Linked DNA regions of Homo sapiens: all the other regions are linked to region 1. Evidence: fine-mapped expression QTL. A gene starts in region 1. Each other region holds a variant in brackets. All regions are shown on one strand. Distances are from middle to middle.

Evidence for each region.
Region 2: its variant is fine-mapped to the expression of LRPAP1 in whole blood (TOPMed, PIP above 0.99). The same link has a PIP of 0.9 or more in blood mononuclear cells.
Region 3: its variant is fine-mapped to the expression of LRPAP1 in whole blood (TOPMed, PIP above 0.99).

The regions. Positions count from the first base shown.
Region 1 is chr4:3,530,603-3,534,794 of GRCh38, reverse strand. It overlaps LRPAP1 (LDL receptor related protein associated protein 1), which reads left to right and starts at 2,373. Exons shown (of 8, transcript NM_002337.4): 1 at 2,373-2,586. The coding sequence starts at 2,383. RefSeq lists silencers at 2,134-2,193, 2,634-2,883 and an enhancer at 2,384-2,593.
Region 2 is chr4:3,553,719-3,557,910 of GRCh38, reverse strand. No RefSeq gene overlaps it. Among named protein-coding and RNA genes, the nearest start is that of LINC00955, 21 kb to the left of the region's middle. The variant T/C (reference allele first, on the strand shown) is at 1,808.
Region 3 is chr4:3,506,888-3,511,079 of GRCh38, reverse strand. LRPAP1 (LDL receptor related protein associated protein 1) reads left to right here. Exons shown (of 8, transcript NM_002337.4): 8 at 1-4,192. Among named protein-coding and RNA genes, the nearest start is that of LRPAP1, 23 kb to the left of the region's middle. RefSeq lists an enhancer at 1,032-2,231. The variant C/G (reference allele first, on the strand shown) is at 2,392.

The DNA.
Region 1 (4,192 bases):
AAGAGGAGAGCATGCCGTCACCTGGAGTCTCTGGTATGTGCCTGGCACCTGTACTGATTGCATTAACCACTGTGATTTTTTAGAAGATGTACTAGTTTGAAATGTATAATACATACGGAGAAGTGTATGAAATATGTACAATTTAAAGATAAGGAAAAATGCATGCCTGTGTGCCCACCACCTAGTGAAGAACTACAACCTGGACACCACTTTGGAAGCCTGTCTGTGTTCACCCGTCGCATTCTCCCTCCTCCCCCAGCCCAGGTATCCTCCATCCTTTAGCCATCCCCTGACTTTCTTTAGTTTCATTGCCTGTGTATGCAGCCACGAATAAAATATTGCTTAGTTATCTGGGAAACCGGGCTGTATAGGAAAAGGGCTCTTAGAACCCCACACCACTGTCAGATGCAGGATCCCAGAAGACTCTGCTCCCAGTCCAGCTTCCAATTCCTGTGGGTTTATAACGGGCCTTTCTAGAGACACTGGGGGCAGGATTCACAGAGCTGGAACATTTGCAGTTAGGACCACATTCCAGATGACCAACAGGGACATGCTTGGGGGGGATAGGCCAATTTGGACTATCCCCTTCTAAGCCCACCAAGACCTACCTGTAGCTCTCAGGAGTGGGGTCAGGGCAAAACATGTATGTGGGGTAAAACAGGTGACCTCTGATTCTAGGCACCAGGAGATGGAGAGAAGAGCAGGAACGAGGGAACACAAGGGGAAGGCAGGCACAGGTGAGAATCTAGGCCAGGCTCACCTGGCCATTCTGTCCTGAGGCTTAAAAACATGCAATGATGGCAATGACAGCATTTGATCTGTCTCTGGAGTCACTTCGCATGAGGTCATTCTCCCTCCACCACCCTCCTGGGGGATTCCTTTACCTCCTCTCCCCCATACATCCCATATTGGGAACTTGTGCTTCCAGCTAAGATGCAGTAACAGACTGAATTTACCCTCTTGCCTGAAACAACTCAACAGCTGGAAAAAAAGAAATGAAACGATGGCTCTGAAAATACTAGAAAAGCAGCACAGGACAGAAGCAGATCACCTTGATTCCAGGGACCTGAAATCTTCTCTGGAACAACACAAGATACAATTTAAATGTAAATTAGGGTAGGCCCAGTGGCCCACGCCTGTAATCCCAGCACTTTGGGGGACCAAGACGGGAGGGTTGCTTGAGCCCAGGAGTTGGAGAACAGCCTGGACAACATAGGGAGACCTAATTTCTACCAAAAAATTTCAAAAATTAGCTGGGCGTGGTGACACGCACCTATAGTTCCAGCTACTTGGGAGGCTGAGGCAGGAGGATCGCTTTAGCCCAGGAGGTCGAGGCTGCAGTGAGCCATGATCATGCCACTGCACTCCAGCCTCGATGACAGAGACCCTATCCCCCCACGCAAAAAAAGGAAATGAATTAACATTAATTCCTCTCAAGATGCCCAGGCTCTATTCACCCCCTTTGTCATTGTCCCTCCAGTTGGAAATTCCTCCCTCCCCCCGCAAAATCCCGCCCACCCTTGGAGGCCTTTTCAGATCATTCTTGCCAGATGAGCTCCCCTTGTCCCTTCTCTGAGCCCAAAGGGGCCCAGCTGCTGTCTGTCTCCCTCCTTCCCCTTGTTTCCCGCGCTACCTCCAGGGCACTTCCCAACTCACTGGCCAAGCCCCCAACGAGCGGTCTATGCTAACTTTGGCTCTGTGAATTTCCTAGAGTGTCATGGGTTGGGGAAAAGCGCGCGAAGTCCTGCCTTGCAGCAGGCGCGAGAGCAGGCGCTTGGGACGCGGGTTGGGGCAGGGGCCCCGGGACGTAGGGGGACGTCTGCGCGGCCCTGCGTCCCCGGGACAACCTGGCCTGGGCTTACCCACGGCCAGGCGCTCCGCGGAGGGCAGAAGCGGGCTGGGCCAGGCTCCTCAGCGCCAGGCCCGGGCCGCAGTGCCAACCCCGCAACGGCACTGGACATGCAAGAGTCGGCGTCAGTGCGCGTGAAGCCGGAGCATTATCAGGCTCAGCCAAACGCGGCCCGGTTCTTGGGCTTTCCGCTCTTTCTGTGGGGCAGAGAGGGAAAGAGGCCTCGAGTCGTGCGGGCTCCAGGCTCCGGGCTCTGGGTGAGGCCTGATCCCTGCTCCCACCCGGCCACCCTCATTCTCCAGTTGTATCCCCTGCCAGAGTCTGCAGCCTCGGGCCGCGGCGTGGTTGCCTGGGAAACGCTTGCGCCTGCGCAGGGCTTCCTAGGCGCTGGAGTCCGCCGGCGGCCTCGCCGCTGCCGGCCGCTCACGGAGGAACTACAATTCCCAGGAGACCGCGCGGTGGGTGGGGGCGGGGTAGTGGGCGGGGCATCGGCAGGCTAGGTTTTCTCCGCGCAGCGCCAGTCGCAGAGGAAGATGGCGCCGCGGAGGGTCAGGTCGTTTCTGCGCGGGCTCCCGGCGCTGCTACTGCTGCTGCTCTTCCTCGGGCCCTGGCCCGCTGCGAGCCACGGCGGCAAGTACTCGCGGGAGAAGAACCAGCCCAAGCCGTCCCCGAAACGCGAGTCCGGAGAGGAGTTCCGCATGGAGAAGTTGAACCAGCTGTGGGAGAAGGCCCAGCGAGTGAGCGCGGCCCGCGGTCGGTGGAGCGGGGCCTGGGGGCGGGGGCCGTGGTTGGGGTCGTTGGAGCGGGGCCCAGGGGTCGGAGGCGGAGGGGGGCGCAGCCGGGGCACCTGTGCCCTACGCGCCCTGTCCTTGGCACAGCCTCCCCCAAGTGTCAGGTGGGGCGCCCCGACCCCTTCTGCAGCAGGAAAGGTACCCGTGCCGGCGACGACGCCGTGTGAAGCAGGTGGCGGCCGGCACCCCGAGGGTCAGTGTCGCCCTCCCCAGCCTGGGCGGCCTGCTGACCCGAGCGTAGGGACAGAACCAGGCTAGATCACAGGTCTCCTGCCTCCCGAGCCTTTGCCTGTTCCCTCAACCTTATCTCCCTATGTGGGGAAACAAGAAAAACAAAATGTTGGGTAGAAAGACGTGTCCAGGGACAGAAGGAATCCCAGTAGCAAGCCCGTGCTTGTTCATTTGAGCGAGAAATGAGGAGGTGAGGAGATGGGATCGGTTTAGAGCACATAAAACGCGACCTTGGGAATGCTGAAAGTCAGTCTTAACAGGGCGCTCACCTGACCTCTCCTTCATTTGAGAGATGAGGGTACGGAGGCCCCGAGGGGAAAGGGCACCCCCAAGGTGGCTCGGCCGGTGGGGCCCCCCGGGACAACAGCTTCCTAATTGGTGCGTGACCCTGGGCCAGCTGCTCTCTTCATTAAGATACGGTTGCTTCATTTGTTAGGTGTTCCTGAAAACACCTGAAATGGGTGTTTTCGAACTATGCCGACCATCTGGGCCTCATTATCTCATCTCAAATGCAGGAGTCAGATTAGATCTCTGTCTCAATAGTCCAGTTTTAAGCATTCCTGAGTCTTTGAGAGGGAAAGTAAGTGATTTGCAGAATAAGAAGGAACTTTTGGAACGAAAAGGGAGAGGAGAAACAGGTGGGGGACAGACAGACGACAGACGGTTATAAGACTGCGTGGGGATGGGGATTGACGCCTGGGCATCAGCTCCACAGGCCCTTCCTGAACTGCTCCTGGGACCAGCAGTCAAGCCCCAGGCGTAATGTTCAGCCTGCGGAGGTGGGAGGTGGGAGAACGCTCTGGGCTGGAGCGGCAGGGCGGCTTCTTGGAGGAAGGGATTCTGGAGGGGCTGGGGACACGGCTGGGTTTGGATGTGTTGATGGCCTCCCAGCAGCAGGGAACAGGTGTGACCAGGAGCAGCCGGGATGCAGTGCTGCCTCCCCGTGCCCACTGCACTGGGCATCTGTTGAGTGGGTGGAGTCCCCCCTCCCCATGAGGAATGGGGAGCCCGAAATAGACTCCCTGACCGATTGGAGGTGGCGCTGAGGAAGTGCACTCGGACCCAGGAACCCCAGCGGCTCCCTTTTGGGTGCTGGCCCAAGTCTTCCACCTGCTCTGCAGGGCCGCCCTGGTGCGCTCCACCTTACCTCCAGCCACCTCCAGCTGGTCCTCTGTCTTTGTCAGCCCAGGCCTCCTGCAGCAATACACCTGCCCTCAGGCTGCCCCTGCACTGGTCCAGCTACCCTCGGGCTGCCCCTGCACTGTCCCCCGGTGCTGGGTGCTCGCCTGACCAGTTTCAGTCTTGGGTTGGGTCATGTCTC
Region 2 (4,192 bases), 23 kb before region 1:
GCCAGGGGGAAGTTTGATAGGGTCACACTGGAGAGGCGACATGCAGACAGGGTCATGCTGGAGAGGCCACATGCAAACAGAGTCACACTGGAGAGGCCACATGTGGATACAGTCATGCTGGAGAGGCGACATGCAGACAGGGTCACTCTGGAGAGGCCACACGCAGACAGGGTCACGCTGGAGAGGCCCCACGCAGACAGGGTCACGCTGGAGAGGCCCCACGCAGACAGGGTCACGCTGGAGAGGCCCCACGCAGACAGGGTCACGCAGGAGAGGCCCCACGCAGACAGGGTCACGCTGGAGAGGCCCCACGCAGACAGGGTCACGCTGGAGAGGCCCCACGCAGACAGGGTCACGCTGGAGAGGCCCCACGCAGACAGGGTCACGCTGGAGAGGCCCCACGCAGACAGCATCACGCTGGAGAGGCCACATGCAGACAGGGTCACTCTGGAGAGGCCACATGCAGACAGGGTCACTCTGGAGAGGCCACATGCAGACAGGGTCATGCTGGAGAGGCTACATGTGGAAACGGTCACACTGGAGAGGCGACATGCAAACAGGGTCACGCTGGAGAGGCCACATGCAGACAGGGTCACGCTGGAGAGGCCCCATGCAGACAGGGTCATGCTGCTGGAGCTAACGTGCAGAGTGAGGTATTTGGTAACATGAGGTTGTGCAAGCGGGCTGCTTGTGGTTAGCCATTTCTTAGAACAACGGCTCTCCCCGACCCTAGTTCATGTTCTTGCCAGCTAGGGCCTGTGGTGCCATGGAGCTGTGCAGAGGAGGGAACCCCTTCCTCATTTCTATCAGCTGATCGGGACTCCACAGTTTGGTTTCGCTGCATATGACAATCCCAGCAAAAGAAGCATAAACAAGAAAGAAGCTGATTTCTTTCTGAAGGGAGAATCTGGGGATGACTGATTGAGGGTGAGGTGGCAGCTCCTCGATGTCCTCAGGGACCCAGATCCTGGCTGTCCTGCTCCTCGTCCTCCACGCATAGTGTCTAGCCTCAAAGCCACTCCATGGTCCAAGGTGGCTGCTGGTGCTCCAGCCATCAAGACCACAGGACAGGTGGAAGAAAGCTGGAAAAGTACAGGGCAGAAAAGGGCCCCTCCCAGAAGTCCCAGCTGAGTCAGCTTGTTTTTGAGCCATCTTCCTGGAAGTCTCCTACAGCACTTCTGCCTTTAACCCACTGGCCACGACTTAGCAGCTCGGCTCCACTTAGCCTCAGGGAGGAGGCTGGGAGATGCAGGTTTTCATTCTGGCCAGCTACATGCCCCACGACGCATCAGGGTTCTGCCTCCGCGGAGGAAGGGAAGAGGACCATGTCTGTACAAGGGGAGCTAGACCCACGATAAACATGAGCCACGCTAATGTTGTCAGCATCCCCAGAACAGCCGGCAACACAGCCTCACATCACACCCAACCTCCCGCCAGCCTCCAGCCCTGGGCAGCGTCCTCACTGCACCGCAGCCTAGAGAGGGAGCCAGAGTGCAAAAGGGACAGAAAGGGAGAGAACCGGAGGCCACGCTGACCCGAGCAGCCAGGGACAGAGGACAGACCCGGGAGGCAGATGGGAGTTCAGGGCAAGGAAAGTCTTGGGGGCTGCCTGGGGCGGGGGGAGGGAGATGTGGGGGGCAGAGGTAGGGGTGAGCTGCACCTGGGAGGGAACATGCACCCTCTTCCTAAGGAGACCCTGAGAGGCTCAGGGGAGACGGTAGCATGCAACAGCACCTGCTGCTCCCCTCTGCAGGAGGCCGACTCCACGGAGGACCATGCTCTGGCAGAGGAACCCAAATATGCATTT[T/C]TCCCACACCTCAGCCTCTCCTGGCCCCAAGGCAGGTACAGGCTCAGAGCTGGGGAACCGGCTGGAGATTTTCCTCTTTTTGCTGACTCTGCCCTGGCATATTCTGAGATACAGGGGTCAAGACTTCAACATATGAATTTGGGAGTCACAGTTCAACCCAGCATGCTATACAGATCTCAAGGGTGTCACTCAGGGAGTTGACAAAAGCGGACTCCACCAAGATAAGAACCTGACCACCCCCGAGATATGCGCTCATCAGTCCCCACTGCACCCCCTCCAGAGGCGACTTTTCATTGCAGATCAGCGTGACCTGTTCTAGAGCTTCCTACAGGCAGAGTCAGGCCGCACTGGCCCGCCCCAGCTCTCAGAGGCCGGCCATCACTGTGCACCCACACACCACCAGCTGTAACCCAGGCACAGGACCTCAAGGTGGGCTGGCTCAGCTGCCAACAGGAGCGAGTGGTGCTGAGGTCCTCCCAGGAGCCGTGGCCCAGCACCTCCTGGCCGGAACAACCATCCTATTCAAATAAACGAGTAACAAGAATGGGCACGCTCTCCACTTCCAAAAGCAATGCTGGCCGGGCGCAGTGGCTCACGCCTGAAATCCCAATGCCAGAGGCGTGTGAACCAGAGCAACTCCATCTTGAACAGGAGCTGGGTAAAATGAGGCTGAGACCTGCCGGGCTGCATTCCCAGGAGGTTAGGCATTCTAAGTCACAGGATGAGATAGGAGGTCGGCACAAGATACAGGTCATGAAGACCTTGCTCATAAAGGAGGTTGCAGTAAAGAAGCCGGCCAAAGCCCACCAAAACCAAGGCGGCCACGAGAGTGACCTCTGATTGTCCTCACGGCTCATTATATGCCAATTAGAATGCATTAGCTGCTAAAAGACACCCCCACCAGCACCATGACAGCTTACAGATGCCATGGCAATGTCTGGAGGTTACCTTATAAGGTCTCAAAAGGGAGGGGAGGAGACCTCAGATCCTCTTCATCCCTTTACTTTCCTGATAAACTTGCTCTCACTTTACTCCGTGAACTCGCTCCAAAGTCTTTCTCGCATGAGATCAAAGAGACCTCTCTTGGGGTCTGGATCAGAGCCCCCCCTTTTCCAGTAACACCAGCACTTTGTGGGAAAGACAGAGGCGGGAGGATTGAGTGAGGCCAGGAGTTCAAGATCAGCCTGGCCAACATAAGGAGACCTAAGTGTCTAACTTAAAAAAAAAAAAAAGGCCAGGCACAGTGGCTCACGCCCAATACTTTGGGAGACCAAGGTGGGCAGATCACTTGAGCCCAGCAGTTCGAGACCAGCCTGGACAACATCGTGAAACCTTGTCTCTACAAAAAAAAAAATAATAATAATACTAAGAAATTCCCGGGCACGATAGTGTGCACCTGTAGTCCCAGCTATTCAGAAGGCTGAGATGGGAGAATCGCTTGAGCCCAGGAGGTAGAAATTGCAGTGAGCTGAGATTGTGCCACTGCATTCCAGCCTGGGTGACAGAGGGAGACCCTCTCTCAAAAAAATAAAAAAAGAAACCCAGGCAGGCATGGTGGCATGCACCTATAGTCCCCAGCTGCTCCGGAGGCAGAGGCAGCAGAATTGCTCGAGTGCAGGCTGTAGGTCAAGGCTCTAGTGAGTTACGATTGTGCCACCGCACTCCAGCCTGCGTCACAGAGCAAGCTGCAGTCTTAAAAAATAAAAATAAAAAATAAAAGCAGTGCTATTCTCCTACAAATGAAGAAATCTCATCAGACAAATACTGCCACAAACCAGATGAAAATCATGATCTAATATTCCAACAAGAACTTCAGCTCCGAAGGGAGACTACAGCACAGAATAAGAACAGAGGAGAATAAGCACAGAATAAGAACGCAGGGAAGAGGTGGCCAAACGGCAGCGGAGTCTGTGGTAGGAAATGACAGAATTCAGGAAGGAAACTGAAGAAAAAGACAAAACCATTTCAGAAATGAAGAAATGAAGTTACAGGTAATACGAGAGCAGAGACACCACGAAAATCATGTAAAAAAGGAAAAAGTGAGCAAATGGAAAGAAAGAGGAAAGAGATTAAAAAGGATTAGAGAGAAAGTGACTATAAAAGACCAGTAAAGGGCCGGGCGCGGTGGCTCCCGCCTGTAATCCGAGCTCCGAGCTCTTTGGGAGGCAAGACAGTTGGATCACAAGGTCAGGAGTTCAAGACCAGCCTTGCCAAGATGGTGAAACCCCGTCTCTACTAAAAATACAAAAATTAGCCGGGCATGGTGATGTGTGCCTGTAATCCCAGCTACTCGGGAGGCTGAGGCAGGAGTATCACTTGAACCCAGGAGGCAGAGGTTGCAGTGAGCTGAGACTGTGCCATTACACTCCAGCCTGGCAACAGAGC
Region 3 (4,192 bases), 24 kb after region 1:
GGACAGCCTGGCTGGCGTTTTGTGGTGTCTAATTGCGGAGTAGCGTGTCTTACTGTATAATGGCCTCTTTTGTATGTGGGAGACCATGGTGTTGAGGGGAGGCAGTTACACAAAAAACCCAGATACCGAGTGTTAGTTCCATGGGTGTGGCTGGTCATGGTGCGCACTCACGAAGGATGTAGGTGATGCCCTCCACTCCGCAGAGCCAGTCCCACAGGGGTACCCATTCTGACTCCTACCACCGCAGCTCCCTACCTCCCGCCTGCCATGGGTTCCACGTGCATGGCTCTGGGCAGTCTGTGTCTTTGCGTGCGTCTGTGTATGTCTGCGTGTATCTGCTTACATTCGCTCAGCATCTGAGATTCACCCAGGCTTTTGCGTGGATCAGCGGCAGACTCCTGATTGCCGCGTGGCGGCCTGTTGTGTGGGTGTGTGCCGCGTGTGTATCCAGTCCCTACTCAGGAGTGTACGTTTCCAGTGTGGGTTGCAGTCAGGATCCATTTCTCCCTTAACTTTCAGATTATTTGCTGCATAGGCTTTTTTCTCCTAATTTGGCGCCTTTGTCAGAAATCAACTGACCTACCTGTGTGGGTCTGTTTCTGTTTGTCCTTACGCTCTTGCCATTGCCACACTTTAGACAAGGTCTTGCTCTGTCCCTCAGGCTGGAGTGCAGTAGCGTGATCTCAGCTCACTGCACCCTTGACCTCCCATACTCCAGCAATCCCCTCGCCTCAGTCTCCTGAGTAGTAGCTGCGACCACAGGCGTGTGTCACCACACCCGGCTGATTTTATTTTTTTTATTTTTATTTTTTTTGTAGAGACGGGGTTTTACTATGTTGCCCAGGCAGGTCTTGATCTGGGCTCAAGTGATGCTCCTGTCTCAGCCTCCCAAACTACTGGGATTACAGGTTGTAGGTGTGAGCCATGGTGCCCGGCCGCCACACTGTCTTGGCTACAGTTGGGTTTATAATAAACCCTGAATCGAGGTGATGTGCATTTTCCAACTCTTCTTTTTAAAGATTCTTGTGGCTGTTTATGTCCTTGGTGTTTCCATATATGTTTTACAATCAGTGTCTCAATTTCTACCAAAAAAACATGCCTTCTGGAATTTCAATAGCAATTCCCTTGAACGCATTTTTGAATACCTTTTCTGAATGTCTTGAATACATGTTGGGAAGAATCGGTGTCTTAACAGTCTCCAGTGTCCACGCGTTGACTGCCGTGTGTGACTCCAGTCGGCGTCTCAACAGTCTCCAGTGTCCACGCGTTGACTGCCGTGTGTGACTCCAGTCGGCGTCTCAGCAGTCTCCAGTGTCCACGCGTTGACTGCCGTGTGTGACTCCAGTCGGCGTCTCAGCAGTCTCCAGTGTCCACGCGTTGACTGCCGTGTGTGACTCCAGTCGGCGTCTCAGCAGTCTCCGGTGTCCACGCGTTGACTGCCGTGTGTGACTCCAGTCGGCGTCTCAACAGTCTCCGGTGTCCACGCGTTGACTGCCGTGTGTGACTCCAGTCGGCGTCTCAACAGTCTCCGGTGTCCACGCGTTGACTGCCGTGTGTGACTCCAGTCGGCGTCTCAACAGTCTCCGGTGTCCACGCGTTGACTGCCGTGTGTGACTCCAGTCGGCGTCTCAACAGTCTCCGGTGTCCACGCGTTGACTGCCGTGTGTGACTCCAGTCGGCGTCTCAACAGTCTCCGGTGTCCACGCGTTGACTGCCGTGTGTGACTCCAGTCGGCGTCTCAACAGTCTCCGGTGTCCACGCGTTGACTGCCGTGTGTGACTCCAGTCGGCGTCTCAACAGTCTCCGGTGTCCACGCGTTGACTGCCGTGTGTGACTCCAGTCGGCGTCTCAACAGTCTCCGGTGTCCATGCGTTGACTGCCATGTATGACTCCAGGTATTGAGTTCATCTTCAACTTCTCCCAACAATGAACTGGAGTTTTCTGTGCATGTGTCTGGCATGTTTTCCTTTAGATCTAGTCCTAGGTGTTCGATATGCTATTGAGGACTGTGTATTTTTATTTCATTTGTCACCTGTGCGTGGTGCTTTAATCCTGTGCCCTAAACTCCCGCCTTGGCCATGGCGGTGTTTCTGTGGACTCGTGGGGTTTCCGTGTGCACACGCGTGTCCTCTGTCTGACAGTGGCTTTGCTTCCCCTTGTCAGTCTGTGCCTCGGCTTCTCACTGCACTGGTGAGGTGAGCCGGCGCTCGCTAATCTTATTCCCAGTCTCGGTGAACATGGGCTCAGTCTCTCCCGGCTCAGTGTTGGGTTTGCACTGGTGCACTTACAGGCAGAAGAGCTTCCTCATTTGCTGAGGGCTTTTCCTGAATCCGTGTTGAATGTGGTCAGCTGCCTTTCCTGCACCTAGTGAGATGCTCATGAGGTCACTTC[C/G]TTACCGCATTACTGTAGTGAATTACGCTGACTTTCATATGCCAAGATGACCTGGCATTTCCAGGTAAGTCCCTGTGGCCATGGTGCATTGGCCTTTTCTCTGCATGGCCAGATGAGATTTGCTCATACCGGGCTAAGGACCTCCTGTGTAGGAATGCTCTTGAGGGACACTGGGCTTGGATGTTCATTGTCTTGTCATGTGATGTGTCTGTCATGGTTTGATATTGCATTAAGTGGGCCTCCTGAAACAAGTTCTGCCATAGTTTGTATAGGATTGGCATTATTTGTTTCATAGAGATGTGATGGGTGAGGCCATCTATGCCTGCCATTTTCTTTTTGCTTAGGTTTTTCATTAAGAACTTGATTTTTAAAAATAGACATGAGGCCTGGCATGGTGGCTCACGCTTGTAATCCCAGCACTTTGGGAGGCCAACGTGGATGGATCACCTGAGGTCAGGAGTTTGAGACCAACCTAGTCAACATGGTGAAACCCCGTCTCCATTAAAAATATAAAAATTAGCAGGGTGTGGTGGTGCATGCCTGTAATCCCAGCTACTCTGGAGGCTGAGGCAGGAGAATCACTTGAACTCAGGAGGTGGAGGTTGCAGTGAGCTGAGATCACACCACTGCACTCCAGCCTGGGCAACAGAGCGAGGCTCTGTCTCAAAAAAAAAGACATGAGGCTTTTGGATTTTCTGTTTCTTCCTTTGTCATTTTTTTAAAGATAGGTTTGTCGCAGAATTTCATCTAAGTTATCAAAACAATTTACATAAATCATTCACAGTATCCTCTGTGCAGTGATGTCCATTCTCATTCCTGCTCTGGGCCATTTGTGTTTTCTTTTCCCCCTGATCAGACTAGCTAAGAGTTTATCATTTTTACAGATATTTTCCCCAAAGAAACCTACTTTTGGGTCCATTGATTTTTTTTTTCTATTGTTTTCTTTTTCATTGACTTTTGCTCTTTTCTTATGAATTTCCTTTCTTCTACCTATTTTGTGTTCAATTTGCTGTCCTTGTTTTAGGTTCTTTTGATAGAGGCTTAGATCATTGATGAAGAATATGAAAGAATGGGATAATACAGTTAAAAACTTGGTCTACTTATGCCCATTAGAGAAAACATTCTTAAGCACGCATGGAATCTTTTAAAAATGGACGAGGTACTAGGACCCAAAGCAAATGTCAGTAATTCGCAGATGATAATGTATAAATATATGATATGTAGGTAAATAATACAAATCACATTCTTTGGCCAGAGTGCAATTGAGGAGGAAATCAGTAACAAAAAGACAATTAAATCCATTTGATTCTTTTGTTTTCGTTTTGTAGTAACTTGCACTTCCCTGGTGCCAGAGGCATGACACCTTTTTGTCTGCTCTTGGCCATTTGGGTGGCGTCTTTGGGAAGGGCCTACTTAATTCTTTTGCCTATTTAAAAAACTGGGTCTTGGAAATCTTGTCTTTTTTTTTGAGTCAGGATCTTTCTCGCACAGGCTTGGAGTGCAGTGGTGCGATCATAGCTCACTGCAACCTCAAACTCCTGGGCTCAAGCGAGCCTCCCACCTCGGTCTTCTGAGTAGCTGGGACTACAGGCATGCATCACTATGCTCTGCTAATTTAAAGAAAAGGTTTTTTTTATAGAGACTGGGTCTCGCTGTGTTGCCCAGGCTGGTCTCGGAGTCCTGGTCTCAAGTGATTCACCTGCCTCCACCTCGCGGAGTGCCAGGATTACAGGTGGCGGGAGCCGCCACACCCAGCCTGGTCTTAGCGTTATTCCCAGGTCTAGGTGTGAGTCCTTCCTCA